7 linked regions of the Homo sapiens genome follow. The protein of the gene in region 4 purifies or fractionates together with the protein of the main gene of each other region. This does not show direct contact. Each region holds a gene or a part of one and is shown on either strand. Other genes may lie near its edges.

Evidence for each region.
Region 1: the proteins of PDS5B (region 4) and WFDC5 purify together in Homo sapiens (affinity purification with western blotting; one study listed by BioGRID). This does not show direct contact.
Region 2: the proteins of PDS5B (region 4) and CDC45 purify together in Homo sapiens (affinity purification with western blotting; one study listed by BioGRID and IntAct). This does not show direct contact.
Region 3: the proteins of PDS5B (region 4) and SPINDOC purify together in Homo sapiens (affinity purification with mass spectrometry, with the first as the bait; one large-scale study listed by BioGRID). This does not show direct contact.
Region 5: the proteins of PDS5B (region 4) and ZSWIM7 purify together in Homo sapiens (co-immunoprecipitation; one large-scale study listed by IntAct). This does not show direct contact.
Region 6: the proteins of PDS5B (region 4) and RBM10 purify together in Homo sapiens (affinity purification with mass spectrometry, with the first as the bait; one large-scale study listed by BioGRID). This does not show direct contact.
Region 7: the proteins of PDS5B (region 4) and STK38 purify together in Homo sapiens (affinity purification with mass spectrometry, with the first as the bait; one large-scale study listed by BioGRID). This does not show direct contact.

Annotation. Positions count from the first base shown.
Region 1 is NC_000020.11:45,112,375-45,116,510, forward strand, and holds the start of WFDC5 (WAP four-disulfide core domain protein 5 precursor), read right to left. Parts: upstream 2,801-4,136; 5' UTR 2,710-2,800; coding exon 2,625-2,709; intron 152-2,624; exon of another isoform or gene 1-151.
Region 2 is NC_000022.11:19,517,920-19,521,108, reverse strand, and holds the end of CDC45 (cell division control protein 45 homolog), read right to left. Parts: intron 2,266-3,189; coding exon 2,201-2,265; 3' UTR 2,200-2,200; intron 629-2,199; 3' UTR 501-628; downstream 1-500. UniProt on the Homo sapiens protein: Required for initiation of chromosomal DNA replication. Core component of CDC45-MCM-GINS (CMG) helicase, the molecular machine that unwinds template DNA during replication, and around which the replisome is built.
Region 3 is NC_000011.10:63,819,956-63,823,455, reverse strand, and holds part of SPINDOC (spindlin interactor and repressor of chromatin-binding protein), read right to left. Parts: intron 826-3,500; exon of another isoform or gene 666-825; coding exon of another isoform or gene 608-665; intron 322-607; coding exon of another isoform or gene 300-321; exon of another isoform or gene 1-299. UniProt on the Homo sapiens protein: Chromatin protein that stabilizes SPIN1 and enhances its association with histone H3 trimethylated at both 'Lys-4' and 'Lys-9' (H3K4me3K9me3).
Region 4 is NC_000013.11:32,589,452-32,592,951, reverse strand, and holds part of PDS5B (sister chromatid cohesion protein PDS5 homolog B), read right to left. Parts: intron 1-3,500. UniProt on the Homo sapiens protein: Regulator of sister chromatid cohesion in mitosis which may stabilize cohesin complex association with chromatin. May couple sister chromatid cohesion during mitosis to DNA replication.
Region 5 is NC_000017.11:15,986,205-15,989,704, forward strand, and holds part of ZSWIM7 (zinc finger SWIM domain-containing protein 7), read right to left. Parts: intron 1,165-3,500; coding exon 1,062-1,164; intron 1-1,061. UniProt on the Homo sapiens protein: Involved in early stages of the homologous recombination repair (HRR) pathway of double-stranded DNA breaks arising during DNA replication or induced by DNA-damaging agents. Required for meiotic progression, hence for fertility.
Region 6 is NC_000023.11:47,176,221-47,179,720, reverse strand, and holds part of RBM10 (RNA-binding protein 10), read right to left. Parts: intron 3,222-3,500; coding exon 3,135-3,221; intron 619-3,134; coding exon 558-618; intron 403-557; coding exon 226-402; intron 176-225; exon of another isoform or gene 1-175. UniProt on the Homo sapiens protein: Binds to ssRNA containing the consensus sequence 5'-AGGUAA-3'. May be involved in post-transcriptional processing, most probably in mRNA splicing. Binds to RNA homopolymers, with a preference for poly(G) and poly(U) and little for poly(A).
Region 7 is NC_000006.12:36,498,980-36,502,479, forward strand, and holds part of STK38 (serine/threonine-protein kinase 38), read right to left. Parts: intron 1,012-3,500; coding exon 894-1,011; intron 1-893. UniProt on the Homo sapiens protein: Serine/threonine-protein kinase that acts as a negative regulator of MAP3K1/2 signaling. Converts MAP3K2 from its phosphorylated form to its non-phosphorylated form and inhibits autophosphorylation of MAP3K2.

The sequences.
Region 1 (4,136 bases), on a different chromosome or scaffold from region 4:
GGATGGGGCATGACAGCTGGCATTTCCAGTGGAAGAACTGCGATAGCTGCAATGTGGAGGTGGGGATAAAAGCCTGGCGTGTGCAGAGCCGGCGTGAGAGGCTCTGGGTGGTCACACTCACTCTGTTTGCCTGCCTTTCCTAACAGTCCCTCCAAACCAGGTTCTCCACTCACAGATGTGTACATCGAGACAGTCACACACACAGATGGTCATCCAGATGCATGCGCCATGGGTGTGTAGACTTAGAGAGCAAAAGAATCGTATCCAAACATGGTTAAATATATACACTTGTACACACAGACGATACACACATAGTCAAATACACAAGCACATTTAGATCTAGACACACAATTAGCTACAGGCTTAACAGTAGGAAACTGCAGATAGTCAACTGTTTTATCTACAAAAGTAGCAATTTTACATGGTTCAACTTAATACACACATATATACATATGGACATATATCAGAGAGTTATATATATGCAATATATTTATAAACATATATAAACAGGCAGTCATGTATGTACATATGAGCTGGAACATAATCACTGTCATTTACACATGCCTACCCACATAGATACATACACACAGATAGACACTCAGACACACACAGTTATGTATATAAATATATAAATATATAGCATATGTATGTGAACAGAGAGACATACATAAGCATACACAGTCATATATACAGAATCATATGCACAGAGCTACACAGACACATATATCTTCCCAATACCACATAACCACTGACAGCATTTAATTAGGCACTTGCTGTTTATCAGGGACTATGCCAGGCTCTTTGTATCAGAGACACCCAGACGTTTGAGTGAGAAGGGGGCAGAATGGGGAGCTCTTATAAACAGAGGCGGCTGGGCTTCCACAGGCAACAAACTGAGACTTCCCTTCCCTTGGCTTCGTCACCTTCCTCCATTGTCTGAAATTCTACCAACAGCTCGGCAATGTCTTACAGGAGAGAAACCAGTGGGGGACAAGGTGTGGTGAACTGGGGGAGAGACAAGCTTGTCACACCTGCCCATGCAGAGTGGCCCTGCGCAGGCTCGGTTTCTGCTGTGCCAGCTCTTTGCCTCTGAGCAGCTGGGCTGAATATTGGGGTGTGCTCCCTGGGAACACAATGACTCCCCCAAATCACCCACTTATGCTGTGCTTACTGTGTGCCAGGCCCTTATTCCTCGAGACACCATTTACTCCTGAGAGAGAGGCATGGGACCCCATTTTACAAGGAGTAAGTCTCCAGACCTGTCCTGTTGCCTTCCAGGAGTGTCCTGCCTGGAAGTCCTAATAAACTCATGCACTTGCCAATCTGGCCTTGTCTAAGTCATTCTTTGTTCTCTCAGCTCCTTCCTATGTTGGGGGTGCATTGTCCTGTACAGTCCTGGGTTTTTGCTGTAATAGTTGGTAAAGTGAATCTTTCTGATTTCAAATACTTGCACTCATGCACTTGCTAATCTGGCCTTGTCTAAGTCATTCTCTGGTCTCTCAGCTCCTTCCTATGTTGGGGGTGCATTGTCCTGTACAGTCCTGGGTTTTTGCTGTAATAGTTGGTAAGGTGAATCTTTCTGATTTCAAATACTTGCATTCAAATGCCACATTTGGCACTAACTCAGAGTCAGTCTTTGACCTTGTTAAGTGGTTCCCCGCTATGCCTCAATTTTCCTCATCTGCAAAATGGGGATGAAAATAGTCCTGTCCTCACAGCACCTTGTCGAGGAGTTACGTGATGATGGTGCATGAATCACAGCCAACACAGGGTCCAGCCTTGGAGCTCACCAGTGTACTTCCTTCCTCAGCCTGTCCCCATTACTGTCCCCTTTCTTTAAGGCAGGGCAAGGGTTGCACAGGTGAATGTAGGTTGGAGTGTTCCAGCCCCAGAAAAGGACGCAGGTGGAGGCCTCACCCAGATCAGGAGTCACCTGTCTAGCCACTCAGCAGCCCTCCCTCACCTGTCAGCAGGCCAGCCCCAGCCTTGTCAGGGGTGGGAATGGGGACAGGAGGTTGGGGGCGATGAGAGTTAGAGACAGAGCTTCCTCCCCACAAAGCCCAGATCCCAGAAGCCACACCCTCTCCTCAATTCCCAAGTCCCTTCCACAGATGGGGTGGTGGACCCACTGACCCAGTCACACCACAGCCCAGCAGGCACAGACAGGGTCCCTCCCCACACCTGAAGGCACAGAGACACACATGGACAGGCACCAAGCTCAGACACATGCGTGCAGCCATTCCTAAGTGTACGTGTGCAGACAGAGCTTTGCACAGACAAGCAGACGCAAAGACACATGTCTACACAGACACAGGCACATGCATTCCCCGCCCTGCCACCCCCTGACATATAGACAGGCACAGACAAGCACCGAGAAACTGGCAGAAAAGACACTTACAGATACCAACACAGGCAGGTGGACAGGCACAAATGTACACACATAAAAACACAGGCTTCTGAAAGCACTAAGAATCAGGCATCCACACATACACACACGCACGCACGCACACACACACGCGCACACACACCCCACAGGGCATTACCTGCCTTCCCCCAAACCCTTACTCTCCCTAGAGAAGTAGAGACAATCTGGTCCCCCCAGCAGAGGGATTTCCCGCACTCACCTCCCTTCTTCCTGCCAAAGACAGCAGGCAGCTGACTCCCCACAGCCAGGAGGGCCCCCAGGAGGAGAAGGCTCTGGGTCCTCATATTTCTGCTGCCGGCTCAGGGCCCAGGGCCCCCCAGATTAACACCTGCAGCCTCAGGGAAGCCAGAGAAACTTAGTCAGGAGAGGAAAGAGAGGGGGTGTGGAGTGACACCGTGCCTGCTTCATCTTGGCCCCACCCCCTGAGGGCCCGAGGACTCAGTGCAAGGGATGCTGTCACAATAGCTGAAGATAGGGTGGCGGCACATCCTGCATGTGGGGGACTCAGATCCAGTCTTGCCTGTATCGGTGACTTGGGCTGTGATCTTGGGCAAGTCTTGTCTCTCTGGGCTTCAGTTTTTTCATCTGTACACAGGGTGAAGGTTGTTGAGGCAGATGCTTGCTATCCTGGCTCTCAAAGATGTTGAAGCCCCAGCGATGTCTAGGCAGCGGGTAGAGGTCAGCTTTGAATAGCAAAGGAGTGGGGGTTTGCAGAGTTCTGGATGCCTAGGAAGGGAGAAGGCATTAGGGTTAGGCCAGAGCTTGCAGCCAAAGAAGGCTGGCCCAGGCTGGCATAATGAGTGAGGCCAGCCCTGGCCTCTCCTCTTGGGTCCTGTGGATGGGAGAAAGACCACCCCGCCTTTGGTGAGATCACCAGTGGCTTCTGATAGAACTGCCCTCTTCCTGGGGCTGGCTTGGCTGTTGAGGGTGGGGGAGCATGGCTTTTGGCTTGGCTAAGTTTGCTGGTCACAGCAGATGTGTGGCCACTGGAACCTCTTCTCTGGCCCTAAGGGATCCTGAGCAAAAAAATGTCATCTCATCCAGGGACCCCCACCTTAGATTTCGTATCTCTGATGTTGCCTCCTGCATTTGGTAGAAGAGAGGGAGCTGAGACTTGGCATCCTAAGGGACATCCTAAACAGAAACTCCATCGAAGTACATTCTCTCAGCCTTCTCATTTGAAAGACGAGGAAACTGTGAGATAGAGATGAGAGGGGACTGGCCCAAGGACACGCAGCTAATTCCTGACTAAGCTGGGACTTCCCACTGTGGCCTCCCCATCACCCTCATTCAGTTCCTGGGTTTTAAAAGCAGGTCAATACCTCATCTGATCCTGAGAAAGGAGGGTGATATTACAGGGCTTGTCTCACTTACCCATTCCAATCCAGGACAGCCCTGGCAGCAGGAAGTTCTTCCTTGGGTTTAATGTGAATCTCTCGTGCTGTCTTCTAAGCTATTAAGATAGGAGAGGCTCTGTCTTCTATGATCTGATGTTGCTTTTGGAATGCTGGCACCTCCTTGGAAGCTTTATTTTGGAGGACAAATATATGAGCCCTTCCTTCCTCCCTCCCTCCACCCCTCCCTCCCTCCACCCCTCCCTCCCTCTTTCTTTCTTTTTTCTTTTCTTTCTTTCTTTTTCTTTTTCTTTCTTTCCTTTTTTCATTTCTTTCTTCTTTCTTTCCTTCTTTCCTCTCTTTCTTTCCTTTCTCTT
Region 2 (3,189 bases), on a different chromosome or scaffold from region 4:
ACCCTTTTGTGCCCACTGCCCTTTGCCAAGGGCTGCACCAAGACCAGCCCCACCTACCTGTGTGCTCTTTTCCAGGCCACTCTTTCTGAGCTTTTCCCCACTGACTTAAAACCTACCCAAATCACTCCTGCCTTCAAAGACCTGGAAAAGAGTGCTGGATGGTGAGACCCACAGGTGGAGGGATGGCTGAGAGGGTGGACTTGCTATGTGGCTGAGGCCAGGTGGACCAGAGGAAGTGGTAGGTGGACAGAGCCAGGTGCTGGCTGGCACCACCAGGCAGTGGCCGGTGCAGGTGCTATGAGGAGGCGGGGATGCCGAGGGGTCCTGACCTCTGTCCACTGCCACCCGGAGGGCCTGGAGGACAGAGTAAGGAGATCTTGTCCTTGGGGCCAATCCCCATGCTGATTTCCTGCCAGGCACTGAGGGCTCCTGGGGCCCAAGACCCACAGAAGGCTCAGAGCACACTCAAGCACTGGCCTCGAGACCAGAGCCACAATGGGGACGGAGCCTAAAATAAGCATTTTATTTAATAAAAAATGGCTTCTACATCTCAAATCATGTCCATAACTTACAATCTAAATGAAAGCCAGTTACATAAATAAGAAGGTCATTCTGGAAGAATCAAATTCTAGAAAACAAAACAAGAAAAAACAAGTTTCAAACGATGTTGATGTGCCACCGAATTGAAGAAACTGCCCAGGCGTCCCCTCTGGGTAGTGCTGCTGAGTAGCCAGGACTGCTTGTGGGGGTGAGGCCACCCCAGACTCGGAGGCCCCTGCTGTCCTCATAGCACCCCTTGACTGGGCTGAGCTGTCCTACATCAGAGCTCCTGCCCCCTGGCCCGGGCACCTTCTTACCTCACGGACCCCGCCCAGCTGCTCAGCCAGCCCCCTGGCACCCTCCCATGGGGGCTCTCCCTCCATCCCTCGGCACTCTGCTGCTCAGCCCTCCTAGCCCAGGCCACCTGTGCCCCTGCCTCAGTGGAAGGACACACAGCAGCATAACATCACCACCAAGCAGGCTGCAGGGGAGGGGTTTGCCTCTAGCACCCACTCCACTGCCAGAGAGCCCCACCTCTGCCTCCGCCCCACCCTATGCAGTCCTGTGATGCTCACACTCATCGTCTAAGGAGAGAGTGGGCCCCATTTTTGGATGAGGAAACAGGCTAAGCCTGATTAGGTGGCTGGCCCAAGGTCACTGCTGATGACCCTACAGAACTTGCCAAAAACCCCGAGGGTCTGACTCAGAGCCCCGCGCCCAAAATGGGCCCCATGTAGCCCAGGCCACCCTGAGAGGAACTGTGGGGTCCCTGAGGCCCCCTATGCTGTTGTCAGCAGAAACCCCCACTCCAGCCCCAACAGGAGAACAGGTGCTTGCCCCTGGAGGGATGGACAGATGGATGGATGGACGGACGGATGGGAGAGTGGGGAGGACCCCAGGCCTGGCCTGAGGGACCTCCTGCAACAGAGTCTTGGCAGGGCCCATCTGCCACAGCCGCAGCCTCCAGGCTAGGGCTCTGGGAGATGCAGGGCTGGATGTGGCATTCCCTGTGGGGAACCTGGGCTGAGAGATGGTTACAAAGACACAAGGCAGGCCTATTTCCTGGGAACCCTTAAGAAAGAGGTAGCACATGGGGCAGTGGGAGGTGTCCCGGGACAGTGACCTGCCAGTGAATCCCAATGGGGCCCTCAGGACAGCTGTGTGCTGGTGAAGGCCCCAGCAGAACCAGCGCTTTGGAATTCCCAGCTAAGCGGCTGCCAACAGCTTTGCTTTCTCATGAGCCAAGCACACAAAAGCCCGGATGGCTGCTCTGCGGGCTCTTGCCCAGCGCCTGACACGAAGGCTGTGGGACAGGAGGCTCCAGGTGGCCTTCGAGGGCAGCACCAGGGAGTCTGTGTGTGACATGTGTCACACGCGATGCCCAGCCCAAGTGTGGTCAGCAGAGGGTGAATACCAGCTCTTTCTGAAGGGATCGCAGGGGCTTAATGAAATTAGCTGCCTCAAAATGCCCCATTGTGGCCCTGCTGGCAGCCTAAGGACAGATGTGCTTGGGAAAAATGTGTTGGCTCCAATCTCAAGAACCCTGCTTCGGTCTGAAACCCAAGTAGAAGCCTCCGTTGAGGGAGGACAGAGCAGGGCATCAGGGTCGGGCTCTGAGGGGGCTGCTGCAGCCACCCCTGCAGAACCCCTGTAACTCACCCTAGGACAGGAGGGAAATAAGTGCGTCCAGAAACTTGCTCCGATCCTCAGCTTTCAGCTCAATTACTGAAGTAATGAAAGAAAAACAGCCGTGAGAAGGGAGGAGTGGGAACACAAGACAGGGCACAGAACTCCCCTCCGCTGCCTGCCCTCCACTGCATTCCAAAGTGCGCGGCTCCTCCCGGCCTGTGGTATTCTGCACTCAGTGGTTGTGTCTGTCTCACTGTACTTCATCTTCACAACTGCTGTCTGCACTGCTAGAGAGGTCAGGGTTGGGGCCTGCAGGGAGAACTCCCCCCCGGGAAGACAATAGAGGTGACACAGGGAAGGGCCCTACAGACCTGGACAAACACGGGCCTGCCCACCCCAGCTGGCATGAACCCCCGTCCCCAGAGTGGGTTGTGGAAGTCCTTGGGTGGGGCAGGTCACTTTTGGCCGCACTCTGGCCAATTCCTCGGCTTCAGTGTTCTCTTCCGCACAAGGGGACATGGTGCAAACTGCCCATATCTCACAGGGCCCTCAGGCTCAGCTGAGCACCCAGACCCTCACCACAAAGCAAAACCAGGCCCCAGGATGGGGCTGGCCTGGCCCTGGGAGCCATCTATGCTGCCAGCCACAGCCCCGAGAGCCCCAGACCCAGCCCACGCAGGTGGGCACTAGACATGGCCCACTCTGCACCCTCACCCCTGGCTCTCCACCCTCAGGGAAACCAAGCAGTTCCCAGCCCGAGTCCTCCCTGTATACTGAAGGCCAGATATTCTGCAGGCCAGTGGGTGTCCATCCACCTCTCCCACATCACAGGCACAAAAGAGTTAGCAGGGGCTGCTGTGCGGGGTGAACCAATGCCACACAGTGCCACAGCCATGGCTGGGTCTGGCTCAAGGAAGGCAGCTCTGAGATGGCTGACGCCACTTCAACAAAGGCTGGATCTCCCATGACAGTGTCTATCATTGTTGAGGAATCCGTGGTGATGAGGCAAGAAAATATCCT
Region 3 (3,500 bases), on a different chromosome or scaffold from region 4:
CTCACATTCACATTCATCAGCTCAGCTAACCTGACCACAGGTGGCCTTTTCCAACTGTTAAATCCACGATTTTTACACCTCTAATTTTTTTTAAAGTGGCAGGATCTTTATTTAAATAAAGTCTTCAGAGAACTTCAATACGTACATAACAACACAGAAAGTAGAGACATTTTGGTCGAAGCCTCACAGGTTTCTGAGAAATCTGTCCAAGCTTTGGGTTCGTGAGATCGTCTGAAACCACAGGTCCAGAGCCTCTGCTCCGCAAAGAACCGCCACGGGGGCCCCTGGTTTTTAAAGATTTACTGCCTCCAGCCTATATACCTGGACACAGAATTTTGGGGGACAAAGGCTGTCTCACTCATGCCATCTCCCAGGGTGCCTCCCTCGGGCACAGGCTCCAGGAACACTTGTGTACCAGTGAGGTATCCTCTATGGTTTCCCAGGCATCTCCAACCTCCACGAAGGCTGCCACTGCTGACAACACCCTACAATTGCCTCCGCCCCCTCAGATCACTCAAGCAGCCTGCTGAAGCCCCTTCCTCTCAGACTTTGCCCACTCACCCCAAAGAAACCTAGAATCTCAGGGATTCTCTTCTCATCTACTCACCACTCCAGATAGATGGAGTTTGCGCACAGGGTACCCCAGGACTTGAAATGAGGGCTCCCTTTCGAGAATGAAATCAGAAGACCCATTAGACAGTGGAAGAGGTCAGCCATTTAGAGCAGGGATCCACCGGAGAGGACCAGGAGACTCGGGACACGCTCAAGTCCAAGCAGCACACTCGGTCTCAGGGAGCCAGGACTGGAATGTGACTCAAGCTGAAACTTGAGACAGTTAAAACTGTGATCTACGTGAAGGGGTGAGGCCTGCCTCGAGATCAGAAAACGGGGGGCTCAAATTTAGGCAAATAAACAAAAGCAACTACACACACACGCAAACACACAGAGAGCTCTCTCTGAAGGATACAAACCAAATTAAGAGTGGTATAGCAGTGAACACAAAGAAAAACTTTGTGAGGGGTGAGTGGAGTGTGACTAAAGGAGTACATAATACGCTGCCTTTTTTCTTTGTTTCTTTTTTTTTTTTTTTTTTTTTTTTAGACAGTCTAGCTCAGTTGCCCAGGCTGGAGTACAGTAGTACAATCTGATTGGAGTACAATCAGAATTTACTGCAACCTCAAATTCTTGGGCTCAAGTGATCCTCTTGCCTTAGCCTCTAGTCTTAGTAGGGACTAGAGGTGCACACCAACATGCCCAGTTAATTTAAAAAATTTTTCTAGAGATGGAGTCTCCTTATGTTGCTCAGGTTGGTCTCGAACACCTAGCCTCAGGCAATCTTCCCACTTTGGCATCCTAAAGTGCTGGGAATGACAGGTCTGTGAGCCACTGTGCCTAGCCAAGGCTTTTTTCTTTATGCAAAAAAGCACACCTGTCATCCCAGAACTTTGGGAGGCCCAGGTGGGAGGACTGCTTGCACCCAGGAGTTGGAGACTAGCTTGGGCAACACAGTGAAAACCTGTCTCTACAAAAAATTTAAGAATTAGCCTGGTGTGGAGATGCACACCTGTGGTCCCAGCTACTCAGGAGGCTGTGGCAGGAGGACTGCTTGAGCCTGGGAGTTTGAGGTTGCAGTGAGCTATGATGGCGCCATGGTACTCCAGCCTGGGCAGGGACTCTGTCTCAAAAAACAAAAACAAAAGCACACCTGCTTTTTGAGAGCCCTACTCTCAGGAGAGCCTCCAGCCACCTCGTTGGCCATCATTCTATGGCTCTAGTTTCAAACACACATTTCAGACAAGTTGGTACAAGGAGACGTGCACTCCTACCTATTCACTTCTTCAAGAAGCATTTCCTGAGCGCCTGTAAACTATGCTTGGCATGGAGAGGTGAACAGAGGACTAGGCTTGGTCTCTGCCCTGCTGGACTACATTCCAGTCTCATCCTAATTCTGTCTGCTGGGTCATGTGTGGTTGGCAGAATGATGCCCCTCACCCTAATCCCTGGAACCCGTGAATGTTTTGTTACATGGCAAAGGGGAATGAAGGTTACAGATGAAATTAAGGTTGCTCATCAGCGGACTCAAAAAGAGATTATCCTGGACTGAGTAGCCCAATATAATCATGAGGGTCCTTGAATGGGGAAGAGGCAGATGAGCCGGAACCCAGGACAGTATCTGAGAAAGACTCTACTAGCCACTGCTGGCTTTGAAGATGGAAGGAGGCCACAAGCCAAGAAATGCAGGCAGCCTCTAGGAGCTGGGCAAGTCAAGAAAATAGATTTTCCCCTAGAGCTTCCAGGAAGGAACACAGCCCTGCCAACAGCTTGATTTTAGCTCAGTGAGACCCATTTTGGACCTCTGACCTCCAGAACTGTAAAATAATAAATTTGGGTTTTGTTTTGTTTTTAGAGAGGGTCTCGTTCTGTCGTCCAGGCTGGAGTGCAGTGGTGTGATCATAGCTCATTGCAGCCTTGAACTCCTGGGCTGAAACAATCCTCCTGTCTCAGCCTCCCAAGTGGCTGGGACTACAGGCACAAGCGATGTGTGTTGTTTTTTTTTTTTTTTTTTGAGACGGAGTTTCGCTCTGTCGCCCAGGCTGGAGTGCAGTGGCGCGATCTCGACTCACTGCAAGCTCCGCCTCCCGGGTTCACGCCATTCTCCTGCCTCAGCCTCCCGTGTAGCTGGGACTACAGGCGTGCGCCACCATGCCCGGCTAATTTTTGTATTTTTAGTAGAGACGGGGTTTCACCGTGTTAGCCAGGATGGTCTCGATCTCCTGACCTCGTGATCCGCCCGTCTCAGCCTCCCAAAGTGCTGGGATTACAGGCGTGAGCCACCGCGCCCGGCCCGATGTGTGTTGTTTTAAGCCATTAGATTTGTGTGATTTGTTACAGCAGCAAATAGGAAACTGACATAAGGACCATGGGGAAGAAGGAACCATTTCTTTGAGAAATGGTTTTCCCTTTTGGAAAAAGGAATGGACATCTGCCCTTCTATACAAGTTATTTTTGTAAGGGCCAAATAAACTGTATGTAAGCTTCTTTTTTTTTTTTTTTTTTGGAGACAGAGTTTCACTCTGTTGCCCAGGCTGGAGTGCAGTGGCGCAATCTCGGCTCACTGCAACTTCCACCTCCCAGGTTCAAGCAATTCTCCTGCCTCAGCCTCCCAAGTAGCTGGGATTACAGGCGCCTGCCACCACACCTGGCTAATTTTTATATTTTTAGTAGAGATGAGGTTTCGCCATATCGGCCAGGTTGGTCTCAAACTCCCGACCTCAGGTGATCTGCCCGCCTCAGCCTGCCAAAGTGCTGGGATTACAGGCGTGAGCCACCACGACTTGCCTTGTATGTAAGCTTCTTAAACTCAGTAGGAGCCCAAACAACACAAGCACTTACTGCTGTTATGAGGCAATTTACTGAGCTGGTGTCCCCTGGAGGTGTCTGTCCACTGCTCATCTTATCTATTCTCTGGACACCTAACTGAATTGCTGAGTGGCCCCATC
Region 4 (3,500 bases):
TTAAAAATGAGGTTTCTGCTGTTAGTCCCACTGTTCAGATTAAGAAGTTGAGATTTAGTAAGATTAGGTAATTGCTTGTTTAGCTAGAGGAGATAAAAACCCAAGCTGTCTTGACTCTTAAGTCTATATGCTTAAATTAACCACCATGCTCTTCTGCATTCCTTAGAAAGGGACCCCACTTATCAAGCATCACATCCTGATATATCATAGGAGCATATATTGTGATATATGCTCCTATGTTCAAGTCTTAAATGCCAGTGACCTTCCGAATTCCAACTACAGCTATAAAGACTTGACCTATTTATGTTACCCCAGAAGGCTAGGAGAGTCGAAAGCTGAAAGGAATAGTACCAAAGAGACAGAGGGGGAAAAAGTGCTCAAGAGCTTCTACTTAGGCCAGGGCGCAGTGGCTCACGCCTGTAATTCCAGCACTTTGAGAGGCCAAGGCGGGCAGATCACCTGAGGCCAGGAGTTCGAGACCAGCCTGGCCAGCATGGTGAAACCCTGTCTCTACTAAAAATGCAAAAAATTAGCCAGACGTGGTGGCGTGCACCTGTAGTCCCAGCTACTCAGAAGGCTGAGGCAGGAGAATCGCCTGAACCTGCCAAGGCCGAGGCTGCAGTGAGCCGAGATCACACCACTGCATTCCAGCCTGTGCAACAAGTGCGAAACTCCGTCTCAAAAAAAAAGAAAACCAAAAACTAAGCACACCTCATCTCTGGGGCATTTGAAATACCCAGGTCCAGGCTGCCATGCCTGACAGGAAAAGAGGAGAAAACCAAATGACAGTATGAATAAAAATGAAATGATAGTTGAAGGTGGGAGGGAGAAGTGATGAGACAGGATAAGCAGATGGTACAAGGTGGGGTTGACTCTATACAAAATTTATTTGCCCTGACTCTCAAATCTCCCTTCCTGTGTGTCGCTTCAGCTTCTCTTCTACCTTATGTTTACACCAAGTCAAGGGCTTTCAATACTCTCATACTGACCCAGAGTTGTTCAAAGCCAGGTGCTGTAGCCTCTCCATTCAGAGCATTGCTCCCCGTCAAGGTGCCATGAGCCCCAAAATATTTTTCCTCTTCTTAAAGTCCCACTTCTCTCAGACCATCTTAGCTCTTAGGTAAGGGTGAAGGTAGGTGGTGGGGGCAGCAAGTAAATTAAACTAGCATTAAACCACTTGATTAAAGAATATGTTGCAAATGGCCTCCCCCTAATAAGCATATAAACAAATGTTTACCTTCACTCACAAAGAAATACAAACCCAAAACAAGACAAATTTCATATATCAAATTGGCAATATAGTTTTTTAAAGTCCAATGTTGGTAAATACATGTCACAGGCATTCTCATACGCTGCTGGTCAATGTAAACTATTACAACGTAGTACTACTCAACAGGAGTCAGAAAAAATAAATTATGTTATAATAAAATATTCTTATTATTTCTTAATTATGTTGATCTGTATGTGCCAGTATGAAAAGAGCTTGTGACTTAACTAAGGAAAAAAGTAAATCACAGTTAAAAAATAAAACAGTAGGCCGGACGTGGTGGCTCATGCCTGTAATCTCAGCACTTTGGGAGGCCGAGGCGGGCGGATCACGAGGTCAGGAGTTTGAGACCAGCCTGGCCAACACAGTCTCTACTAAAAATACAAAAATTATCTGGGCATGGTGGCACACGCCTGTAGTCCCAGTTACTCAGGAGGCTGAGGAAGGAGAATCACTTGAACCCAGGAGGTGGAGGTTGTGGTGAGCCAAGATTGCCCCACTGCACTCCAGTCTGGGCAACGGAGCGAGACTCCATCTCAAAAAATAATAATAATAATAAAATAAATAAATAAAATAGTAAATTACAGTACAACAGTATAACAATACTCTTTGTACAATTTTTTTTAAAGTAAACTTTTAAGAAACTGTTAACAGTGGATTACCTGTGGGGGGAGGAAAAAAGTAACATTTTTTACTCTATCATTAAATTTTTTTTTTTTTTACCATATACCTGTATAACTTTTAACTTAAAATACACAATTCTTTAGGTACTCTATTCCCCTAATAGAGTACTTAAGGCCTGCAACTCTCACCCCTGCAATTTGCCCAGCATCTTGCCCCTGCAACTTGCCCCTGCAACTCTCACCCCCACACCCAACCCAAAGCATCCCATATCTGAAAGCTAACTGAAACTACCTGGTAGAACTTCAGCTACTAAATAATATTTTGGAGATATGGAGCTTTCCTTTAAAATATCTTCAATTACTTCCCTAAAATCACCTCTGAGGAGAAAGAATCCTATCTTACCTAAGGAAACACAAAATCTCATTTCTTTTCAGGTCCCTAACCATCCTCTTCTAGAGAAAGACAATGGTCTTGGTTATAAGAGCCCCTCCTTCTCCTTATGGGATCTAATCTTGGCTAATTTCACTCTCCCACATAAAAAGAGCAACCTCAACTGCCACTGAAAAGGAAGGAGGGCCTGCTCCTTCGGAACTAAGTAACAGCAGAGATCCTACTCTCTGGTCTGTCTCAGCTCTCATCACCTTGCTGTGGATGGCCAACCACTACTCTGCACTTCTATAGGACAGGGTGTCTTCAGTCCTGTTTAGTGCATCATCCCTGGTACTGTATGTATATGGAAGTTTTGTACCTGTTCATTTTAATTGAATCAGGTAATTATCCGTCAAAAAAGAGAATGGCAGGCTAGTGGAATACTTTTAGTCCTTAAAAAGATGCCTCAAAATAGTTTCTTACTTTAATCAGTCTTTCCCCCAAGCCTGTTAGCTTTTATGTTTTACATAGCTAAACCAAGTATTTTTAATTACTACTTATTATTAATGTCTAATTATTAGAACACAATGATTATACTTTTTAAACCTCAAAGGCTTTAAGATTTGAACAAATAAATTTTATTCATCTAAGTTTTATTATCATGATTTTTTCACTGTGCACGATCACTCATGCCAGCTAAAACAATTACAGTCTCAACACAGCAAATTTATTCTTAATTCTGAACTAATTAATGAGAAAGGATTCTAAAACCTTTTTCAAGTAATGGGGGAAATGGTTAGAATCAAGTGGTTGTAACAGAACAGTGTGAGGAAAGGGCTTCTTACCTCTACTCTCCAAGGAGTCAGAATTGCGAACCATTTGGCAGCTTCTTAAAAAGTAAATACACTCTCAGAGAAACTACTGGGCTTGTTTTTAAACTAAGTATTTTTGGAATCTTTAACATTCCCGAACAGGAATACGAAAACCAAGTAAAACGCCTATTGTAACTAGAAGTGACAGATGACTTGTGTAGCAAACTGAGTTTAAAAATGAAAAAATACACGCATACTCATGCACGCACTATATCTTGTAACAAAACAAAGGTCAATACTAACTTTCCCAAATTACTCTTAGAAGTTTCACAAAGAATAAATAAATGCCATGTCAAGTAATGTTACATAAAGAAAGACGGCTCCCGGAGACAGAGACCTACAAGAGGCTATCTTCTGAGACAACCTAA
Region 5 (3,500 bases), on a different chromosome or scaffold from region 4:
AGCTAATTTTTGTATTTTTAGTAGACACGGGGTTTCACCACGTTGGCCAGGCTGGTCTTGAACTCCTGACCTCAGGTGATCCACCTGCCTCGGCCTCCCAAAGTGCTGGGATTACAGGCGTGAGCCACCACGCCTGGCCATCTTATTTTAGTTACAAAAATTTCTGGAGGATTTTGTTAAGTGAAACTATGCTAAGTGAAATAAGCCAGGTACAGAATGACAAATACCACATGATCTCACTTATATGTGGAATCTAAAAAAAGTTGAACTCATAGGCTGGGTGCAATGGCTCATGCCTGTAATCCTAGCACTTTGGGAGGCTGAAGGGGGAGGACTGCTTGAGGCCAGGAGTTCAAGACCAGCTTGGGCAACATAGCAAGACCCTGTCTTTATTTAAAACAAAAAAAAAAGTTGAACTCATAGAAAAAGAAATAGTGGTTACCAGGGGCCTTGGGGTGGGGGAGGAAGAGGAAGATAAGGAGATATTGGTCAAAGGGTACAAAATTTCAGTTAGGAGAAATAAGTTCAGGGTATCTATGGTACAACATGGTGAATATATTTAATAACAAAGTATTGGCGGGGATGGTGCTCATACCTGTAATCCCAATATTGTGAGAGGCCAAGGTGGGAGGATCGCTTGAACCTAGGAGTTTGAGACCAGCCTGGGCAACATAGTGAGACCCTGTCTCTATAAAAACCAAGAAAAAGACTGAAGTACTGTATATTTGAAGATTGCTAAGATAATGGATTTTAAGTGATCTCACCACAAAAAAAGAAGTATATAAGGTATTAGATATGTTAATTAGCTTGATTTAGTTATTCTACAAGGTATCCATATATCAAAACATCATGTTATATACCATGAATATAGACAGTTTCTGTCAGTTAAAAGTAAATAAAAATTTTAAAAAATTATCAATTCGTTAATTTTACCAAGTTGGGGCAAAAGCCTTTTAACAGTCCAGGAAATATTTAAAGCTAGTCAACAGCTTCTACAGAGATGAAGAACATTTTGTCCTAAGGGGTTTCTGTAGGGATCACCCCCATCTCTAGACTTCTACCTGGTAAACACGCCTTCCACTGGGTGATGAGATTAAGGTGATGGACTGTCGATCAACTAGGTCCAAGGCCTGGGTGGCTGATGAGCCAAAGAGAAACTTCAGCCTGTGAAATAAAAACACTTCAGATTAGAAGGCCTGATTCTCAAAGTCACCTCAGTAACTTGCCCAAAGGATCACTAGACTTAGTATTTTTTAAAAATTCATTTTAATTTTGAAAAAAGGAAAATAATACAGCAAAACCCATGGACCCATTCACTCCCCAGAATTAATGTTAATATCTTGTGTACTTATTTCAGATCTTCTTGTATTATGTATATATGTGTGTGTGTATATATATTTATTTATTATTATTATTATTTTTTGAGATGGAGTTTTTCTTTTGCTGCCCAGGCTGGAGTGCAATGGCGCAATCTTGGCTCACCGTAACCTCTGCCTCCCGAGTTCAAGCGATTCTCCTGCCTCAGCCTCCCAAGTAGCTGGGATTGCAGGCATGTGCCACCACACCCGGCTAATTTTGTATTTTTAGTAGAAACAGGGTTTCTCCATGTTGGTCAGGCTGCTCTCAAACTCCAGACCTCAGGTGATCCACCTGCCTCGGCCTCCCAAAGTGCTGGGATTACAGGTGTGAGCCACTGCGCCTGGCCTGTATTATATTTTTAATAAAGGGAGTAAACTGTTAGTGATAAAGAAGCCCTCTTTATACTTCTCTGTAGTGCATCCTTCTTCCTACCTTCCCCTTATCCCTGAGGCAAGCACATGCATTTGTTGGTTTCCTTCCTGTTAATGTGTTCATATTAAATATTATATATAGAACATATGTATGCACACATACATAACAAACACACGTGCATAGATGTATGCATATACATATATAGTATTGTTTTAAAACATAAAAGGTATATTGTAGGCTTCTTTTTGCTGTTCCTGAAATAGCTCATGAAAAATAAAAGAAAATATAAAATATCGTAGACTTCTTTTGGCAACTTGCATTTTTTTACTCAATGCATTTTTGAAAATGAGGCATGTTGACGGACATTTATTTTTACTTTACCTTTGAATAATATTCCATTATATGTATACACTGAATTTTATTTAAGTACTCTATGTATGGACATTGTTTCCATTTTATACTATTATAAATAATATTCAATTATCCCCATACATGTCCCTTGGCATACATCTCTGAAAATCCCCCTTTAGTTTATGTAACTAAAGCATATGTTCATTTTCAACTTTAATAGATATTGCCAATAGCTCTCCAAAGTGGAAACAGGAGTGGTGGCTCATGCCTGTAATCCCAGCATTTTGGAAGGCTGAGGCAAGAGGATCACTTGAGTCCAGGAGTTCAAGACCAGCCTGAGCAATGTAGTGACACCCCATCTCTAAAGAAAAAAGAAAAAAAAAAACTAAAACACACAAAAAAGTGAAAACAGCACTCCCACCAGCACTGTATAAGACTTCTATTTTCTCAGGCCGGGCGCGGTGGCTCATACCTGTAATCCTAGCACTTTGGGAGGCCGAGGCAGGCAGATCACCAGAGGTCAGGAGATCGAGACCATCCTGGCTAACATGGTGAAACCCCGTCTCTACTAAAAATACAAAAAATTAGCCGGGCGTGGTGGCACACGCCTGTAGTCCCAGCTACTCAGGAGGCTGAGGCAGGAGAATCGCTTGAATCCGGGAGGTGGAGGTTGCGGTGAGCCAAGATCGCGCCACTACACTCTGGCCCAGGTAACAGGGAGACTCCGTCTCAAAAAAAAAATAAATGAAACAAACAAACAGAAAAACCAACTTCTACTTTCTCCATGTCCCCACTAACACCAGTATTATCAGGCTTTTTTATGTTGCCCATCTGAAGATAATAAATGTGTACTTTTTGGATTAGTAATAAGGCTATCCAACTGTTAAATGATATACAGGAAAAAACTTTGATATGTGAGAAAATTCTTATAATATTAGGTGAGAAAGGTTGAAGACAAAATTATATTTTAGGAACTCTCAAGCATGTTAACTTTTTTAAAGGAAACCTACAATTATGTCAAAATTAAAAGTTTAATTTTTTTTTTTTTTGAGATGGAGTCTCACTCTGGTGTCCAGGCTGGAGAGCAGTGGCACAATCTCGGCTCACTGCAACTTCTGCCTCCGGGGTTCAAGAGATTCTCCGGCCCAGCCTCCTGAGTAGCTGGGATTATAGGTGCAGGCCACCATGCCCAGGTAATTTTTGTATTTTTTAGTAGAGATGGGCTTTTGCCATGTTGGTCAGGGTGGTCTTGAACTCCTGACCTGAGGTGATCCCCCCGCCTTGGCCTCTCAAAGTGCTGGGGTTACAGGTGTGAGCCAGCGTGTCTGGCCTTTTTGTTTGTTTGTTTTTTGTTTTTTGAGACAAAGTCTCTCTCTGTCACCCAGGCAGGCTGGATTCCAGTGGTGCAATCATGGCTC
Region 6 (3,500 bases), on a different chromosome or scaffold from region 4:
GTCCAGGTGCCAGCCTGGCTGCCTGTCTGCTGAGAACCTTCCCGACACACCCCCAAAGTCAGGTGGGATGTTGCCACTCCCCCTGTTCTCCCTACATCAAATGTCTATCCCCGCACCAAGTGGAGATTCCATGAGGATGAGGTCCTGCTCACTGCCATTTCTCTGGTCTTGGTGAGCCCAGCCCGACACCCTAGGGCACAGAGGAAGAAGGAACAACTGACTCACTGTCATTGGCGTTCTCTGAGCTTGGCTCCGAGCCCTGTGACAGGGCTTGGGAGGCCAGGACTCCCTGGGCCTGGTAGGGCTGCGGCAGGGGAAGCAGGCCCTGGCTCAGCTCCCGGCCACCCAGTGGCAGTGTCTGCTGATCCAGCCTCGTGCCGAGGGGCAGCTTCTGCTCTGCCTCTGTCAGGGGCAGTGGGAGACAGGCTGGTGATAAGGGGAAGGCTCCACGACTGGTCACCCTCCTCCCTATACCAAGCCCTGAGCACAGACCCCTCACCCTTCCCTTCTCCCCAACCGCTCCGCCCTGGAGAGCACGAGAGGTAGGTGGGCCTCACCTGACTTGGGCACGCCACATTTGAAGCACTTCTCTCGGCGTTTGAAGTTCTGGACGCCACACTGTGAGGCACAGGCCAGGCCGTCAGAGGGAGCAGGGATTTCCCACTGCACCCTCCAAACTTGGATGAAGAGATCTCCCAGGGACCCCGCAGTGCCCCAGGAAGGAAAGCCCCTAGGCAATGGTGGCAGGTGCCTTCTGAACCTTCTGATGTTGTTCTCAGTACTGTGCATCTTCCCTTTCCAGACTCTCATTTGTCCTCTGTGCCAACCCACTCAGCTCAGGAATAAACAACTCCCCCATTTGGTACAACAACTCCCTCCTCTCCTTCCTCTGCCTTCTTAAGGCCACCAACTCCCAGGACTGTTCCCCGCCTCAGGTATTCAATCCCTTTATTAGGTTCCTCTCCCTGAAACTTGCTCCTCTATTCAGAAACCTTTCAGTGTTTCAGCCCTAGAAGTCAGTAGCCAGACCCGCACCCCTCCTCTTAGCTCTAGGACTGGGTTGGATCCTGCTACGCTTGAGAAATTTTCCTTGAATGTTCCAGCATCTGGAGACCCAGCTTCTACCACACTCCATCTCTGTTCCAGACTCAGGTACTAAGCACCACTCCTGGGCCAGGCCCTGCTGCACATGGCCAGAACATGGTCTCTGCCCTCATGGCCTAATAGCACAGGGGCAGATGCAGCATGAAGAGGGGCAGGTCGGTCTGCATGGACCATCCAGCAGGGGCTCGGGGAGGGAAATGGGCTGGGGGTGGGGTGCCATTTACTCGGCAGGGACAGTCCCTGCACAGAAGCAGGGAGGTTTGACCTGGGATGCCCAGAAGTTTCATTTTGTTAAGCCTTGCTGGGGAGGGATTGTTATCGGAGGGAACAATGGACTTTCCGAAACTGGTGTGGGAGAGTAAGGGGAGAAGCAAAAGCCAAGGCCGGGGAAGGAAGCCAGTTAGGTAATGGAGGATCTTATGCTTAAGCTGAGCTGGGGCTGGTTAAGCAGAGGAGGAGAGGCGTGGGTAGTCAGAGGTGGTTTTGAGGAATGTTCCAGGTGAGGGCGTGGGAGAAAGAGGACAAGAGGCCAGCATACCAGAGAGGGCTCCACAGTGAGTGGGTGAGAGCGTGACGATTGGCATGAGCAGCGGGAATGGCGAGGGAGGGAAGGTGGCGTTTCTGTGATGGAAGTGACAGGACCTGGTGGCCAACAGGATGCAGGGGAGGGGAAGGAGTTCAAGAGAATTCCCTGGTTTTGGGCTGGGCGTGGTGGCTCACGCCTGTAATCCCAGCACTTTGGGAGGCTGAGGCGTGAGGACTGCTTGAGCTCAGGAGTTCAAGACCAGCCTGGCAAACATGACGAAACCCTGTCTCTACCAAAAAAAATAAAAATAAAAAGGCAAAAATTAGTGGGTGTGGTGGCATGCGCCTGTGGTCCCAGCTACTCTGGAGGCTGATGGCTTGAGCGCTGGAGACAGAGGTTGCAGTGAGCCCAGATTGCTGCACTCCAGCCTGGGCGACAGAGCCAGATCCTGTCTCAAAAAAAAAAAAAAGAGAATTCCCTGGTTTTGAGGCTATCTGGAAACACAGGAAGGAGTTCCACTGTCACTTTGTCTTTATCTCTCCAGAAATGTTAAGCACCAATCCTCTGATGGGACTTTTTTTTTTAAAACAGATGCACCACTCTCCCTGACTAGGCAGAGTACTTCCTGGGGAGAGGGTTGGGGCCTCTACAAACTGTGGAATCACAATGCTGGCCCCAGGGCAGACCTGAAGCCACTGTGGCATCCAAGTCCCTGTGATCAGGAGCAAGGCACAGGGCACAGCTAAAGGTTCACCCATGGTTCCACCTCTCTGAGCCTCAGCTTCCCCTCAGGGAAGACAGAGGTGACTACAAAACCACAGCCTCCAGTTTCAGGTTTGACTTGGCCTGGTCAGAGTGGCCTTCAGGCTTGAGCTACCTGCTATGGGCTCTCAGAACGCTCTGTGCTTTTCTTTCATGATTACAGTTAACAATTCGACTGTGTTAAATGTGGGCCAGGCACTGTTCTGAGTGTTACTCTCTCATTAACACAGCTGAATCCTCCCAACCACCTTTTGGGAGAGGTGTCATTAATATTCACATTTTAGAGATGGGGAAAGTGAGGCAAAGAGAGGCTAAGCACCTTGGCCAAAATCAAGGCCGATCTGGGATAGTCTCATTTCAGCCAGTCTGGCTCTGAAGCCCACATTCTCCACACCACCACTTCAAGTCTACACTGTCACTAATTCATCATCCACGTATATATTTCCTTAAAGTCTACTGGAACTCCAGGCAAGACTGCATTTTAGGAGGACAGAGCCTGCACCAAGTGAACGCTCACTACACATTTGTATATGGCTGGCTAGGAATGGTGACTACTCAAGCTGAGCTAGCAAGGGATAGAGAATGAGAGAGAGAGAGAGAGAGAGAGAGAGAGACAGAGGGAGAGGAGAGATTGGGGGAGGGGGAGAGATGGAGGGAGAAAGAGCGGGAGAGGAAGGGAGAGATCGCCGCCACTGCTGTTGCTGTCTCTGTCCATGACAACTGCTGCCCACCGCCCCTGTACCTTATTGCACAGCCAGTCCTCATTGATCTTGGGCTTGGGGTCACTGTAGTGCATCGACACCTTCTGGCCCAGGATGTTGAGGGAGTGCTGCGGGAAAAAGCAGAGCACAGTGAGGTCCAGGCAGCAGTGCCCCACGCACCGTTTCAGCATAGGAGAAGAGAGTGAGCGAGCCCTTCAGCTGGATGGATGAGGGACAGGGAACGGAGGGAGGTCGGAGAGCGGATGGAGGGAAGAAGGGAGGTAGGGAGGGAAAGCGCCACAGCTCTCGGGCGCAGCTGTTTGCTGCTCTGCCGGGCACACGCACGCACACATGTGAACACACACCACCAGGCACACAGTGTTCGGCTGACCGACGCTTGCCGGACA
Region 7 (3,500 bases), on a different chromosome or scaffold from region 4:
ACCTAAACCTATTTTTCATTTTCCCCCAAACTCCCAGACCCAAAGTGAAATCATGCCTCTGGTACCACTAGGAAGTCAGCTAATAGGTAGAGCTGGGAAAAGAAAGGAGGACATAAATAGAGTTGCAGGTGTGGGAATCACCATGCCCAAAGAAGAAATGAAAGGATGAAACAATATCATTCCAGAAATACCCTTATATGGGTAAAGTACCAAATAACTTGAATAAGAAAAAAGCATAGATTTTAAAAATGACCACCATGCCTCTTTTTGAGAACTACAGGCAAGAAGACAAACACGCACACACCCTATCACCCCATCTTCCCTCCAGACGGTGTACGCCCACCTCCACAGGCATCGTTCCCATGTTCCTGAAGCCAAAGCAGCCAGATAGACTCACCCGGAACCACCAAGGATATACTTAATCTAGTGCTCACTGGCATATGACCACCCCCACAGATGCGTCCCATAAATACAGAGACACACCAATACAATAAGAGGGAGAGAGGCCAGAGGGTCCCATGATTTGAAGGCTTTGACAGAGGAAGGGGGCGGCAAATTAGGAAAGTGAGGCAATGCCCAGTTGAAGTGCTCTGCATACAACGGATATTTAATAAATGCTAGTGACTAAAAGAGCTTCTAGATGGAGAAGATGAAGGTATAAGAGAAAGAAAAACATAAAAAATGATCAGCAAAGCAATTGCAGGATGCCAGTAAGCCCAAGAATGGAGTGGGATACATCTTACTGAAAGAGGTGTCATCTGTCTAAAACAATTCACTTTGAAAGACAAGTAGGGAAATCACTTAGATCACTGCCAATTGAAACAGAGGCTGGTATCAATGTAAAAGTCTGTCATGGATGCACAGAAAAAGTCCTCTGAAACCATGCAACTTACCGATGAGCATCTCATACATGATCACCCCAAGCGACCACCAATCACAGAGCTTGTTGTACCCGGTCTGCATGAACACCTCAGGAGCAATGTAGTCAGGAGTGCCTACTGTGGAGAAGGCCTGAAACATGGACCACACATCAGCGAGGCCCAGCCAGGCAGGAGGTGCCCAGAGTTCTGTTCTAGAAACCAAAGGCTATGAGTAACATCAGAAGCTACCCCCAAGCTAAATAAGCAGGACTGCCCAGTAGCTTAATGGCAAGCTCGATTTCCCAAAGCACTTTCCAAAATGAACAATAAAGCTTTGTTCATGAGGCAGGAGACCCTTAACTATGAGTCACTAGGGCGAAGGCATCTGTGTCATAATAACTGGTATTACAATTTACTGAGCACCCATTAAGTACTAGGCTCTGTACTTAATATATATATTACATGAGTTTTATATATATATATAACTTCATATACATGAGTCCATTTAATCCTGACAAAACTTTTCCAAGGAGGACCTTATTAGCTTAACTTTGCAGATACAATTTGATGCTCAAAATGGCTTTGCCTGAGACCGCAGAACTAGTTAGGTGGTAGAGCCCAGTTTAAAAATTAAATATCTGGCCGGGAGTGGTGGTTCACGCCTGTAATCCCAGCACTTTGAGAGGCTGAGGTGGGCGGATCACGAGGTCAAGAGATGGAGACCATCCTGGCCAACATGGTGAAAACCCGTCTCTACTAAAAATACAAAAATTAGCTGGGCGTGGTGGTGTGCACCTGTAGTCCTAGCTTCTCGGGAGGCTGAGGCAGGAGAATCGCTTGAACCCGGGAGGCGGAGGTTGCAGTGAGCCGAGATCGTGCCACTGCACTCCAGCCTGGCGACAGAGTGAGACTCTGTCTCAAAAAAAAAAAAAAAAAAAAATAGGAATTATAGTATCTTACTCCAAACCATCCCTCTTTCTATGATACACATTCTTTGATTTGACACAATCATAAAGGGAAGCTATATGATCAAAAGCTAAAGTTATATCCTATAACTTAAACATTTATAAATACCTATTTACCAAACTTAATTGTTTTTGTATATAGTTCTTGGAGGAATGTTTTCTTTTTCTAAGAAATGGGGGTCTCCCTTTGTGGGCCCAGGCTGGAGTGCAGTGGCACGATGATGGCTCACCTCAAACTCCTAGGCTCAAGAGATCCTCCCACCTCAGCCACCATAGTAGCTAGGACCACAGGTGCATGCCACCACACCTGGCTAATTTTTTAATTTTTTTGTAGAGATGGGGTTTTGCCATCTTGCCCAGACTGGTCTTTAACTCCTGGCTCAAGTGATCCTCCCACCTCAGCCTCCCAAAGTGCTGGGATTACAGGTGTGAGCCACCGCACCTGACCAAGAGAAACATTTTCTGCATTCCAGTATTCTACTCTAACATACCAGGACTGCAAAATAAGAGGAGAAAGTACAATCAAAGCCTCCTAATGTACTTAACATTTGAGGGCTTCCATGTGTAAGGCTCTGATCTAGGTGCTTTAAATATTATATAATTTTTTAAATTACAGTTGTATTGTTTTTAAAACATGTATTATGAAATATTACAAACATACAGAAAAAAGGAACAGACAATACAATACAGACCCATTACCCACATTAAAAAGATTAATAATTTGCCATATTTGTCTCAGATCATTTGTCTTTTTTTTTTTTTTTGAGATGAACCACACCTGGCTAATTTTTTGTATTTTTAGTAGAGACAGGGTTTCACCACATTGGCCAGGCTGGTCACAAACTCCTGACCTCAAGTGATCCACCCACCTCAGCCTCCCAAAGTACTGGGATTACAGGAGTGAGCCACCGCAACCGGCCTTGTTTGTCTTAACATTCGTTTTGAGATTTATTCATGTAGCTCTAGTTCACTCATTTCTCTGCCGTATGCTATACTGTTATATAAATTAGTCACAATAGTTTTTATCCGTTCTTCTGTAATGGACAGTTACAGTGCTTCCAGTATTTCACTATGACAAATAACACCTGAATAAACATTCTTTTAATACCTTCTTGGGCACTGTGCAAGCATTCCTCTAGAGTATTAACTAGAATATTGCTGAGCCTTGGGTTATAAGCATTTAAACTTGAGGTATCTTCCATGTCCTCCAAAGTAGTTAGTCCCTATTTAAACCAACCCCGGTGGGGATTAGCTTCTGGTACTCCATATCTCATCAAGACTTGGCTTTGTCAGATTTTTTTTTATTTTTACCAATCTGATGAATATGAAATGGGATCTCTTTTTTTTTCTTTTTAAGAGATGGGGTCTTGCTCTGTCACCCGGGCTGGAGTGCAGTGGTATGATCATAGCTCACTGCAGCCTTGAAATCCTGGCCTCAAGGGATTCTCCTGCCTCAGCCTCCTGAGTAGCTGGGACTGTAGGGATGTGCCAGCATGGCTGGGATCTTGTTTTAATTTGCATTTACTTTATTTCAAGTAGGGTTGAGCACATATTCATATTTTAATTAGCCATCCAGGTTTTTATTATGAATTCCTATTCAGATCCTTTGTCCATTAGTATTTTTTAAGTTGTGTTGTCCTTTTTCTTATTGATTCATAGGAATTCTTTATGAATT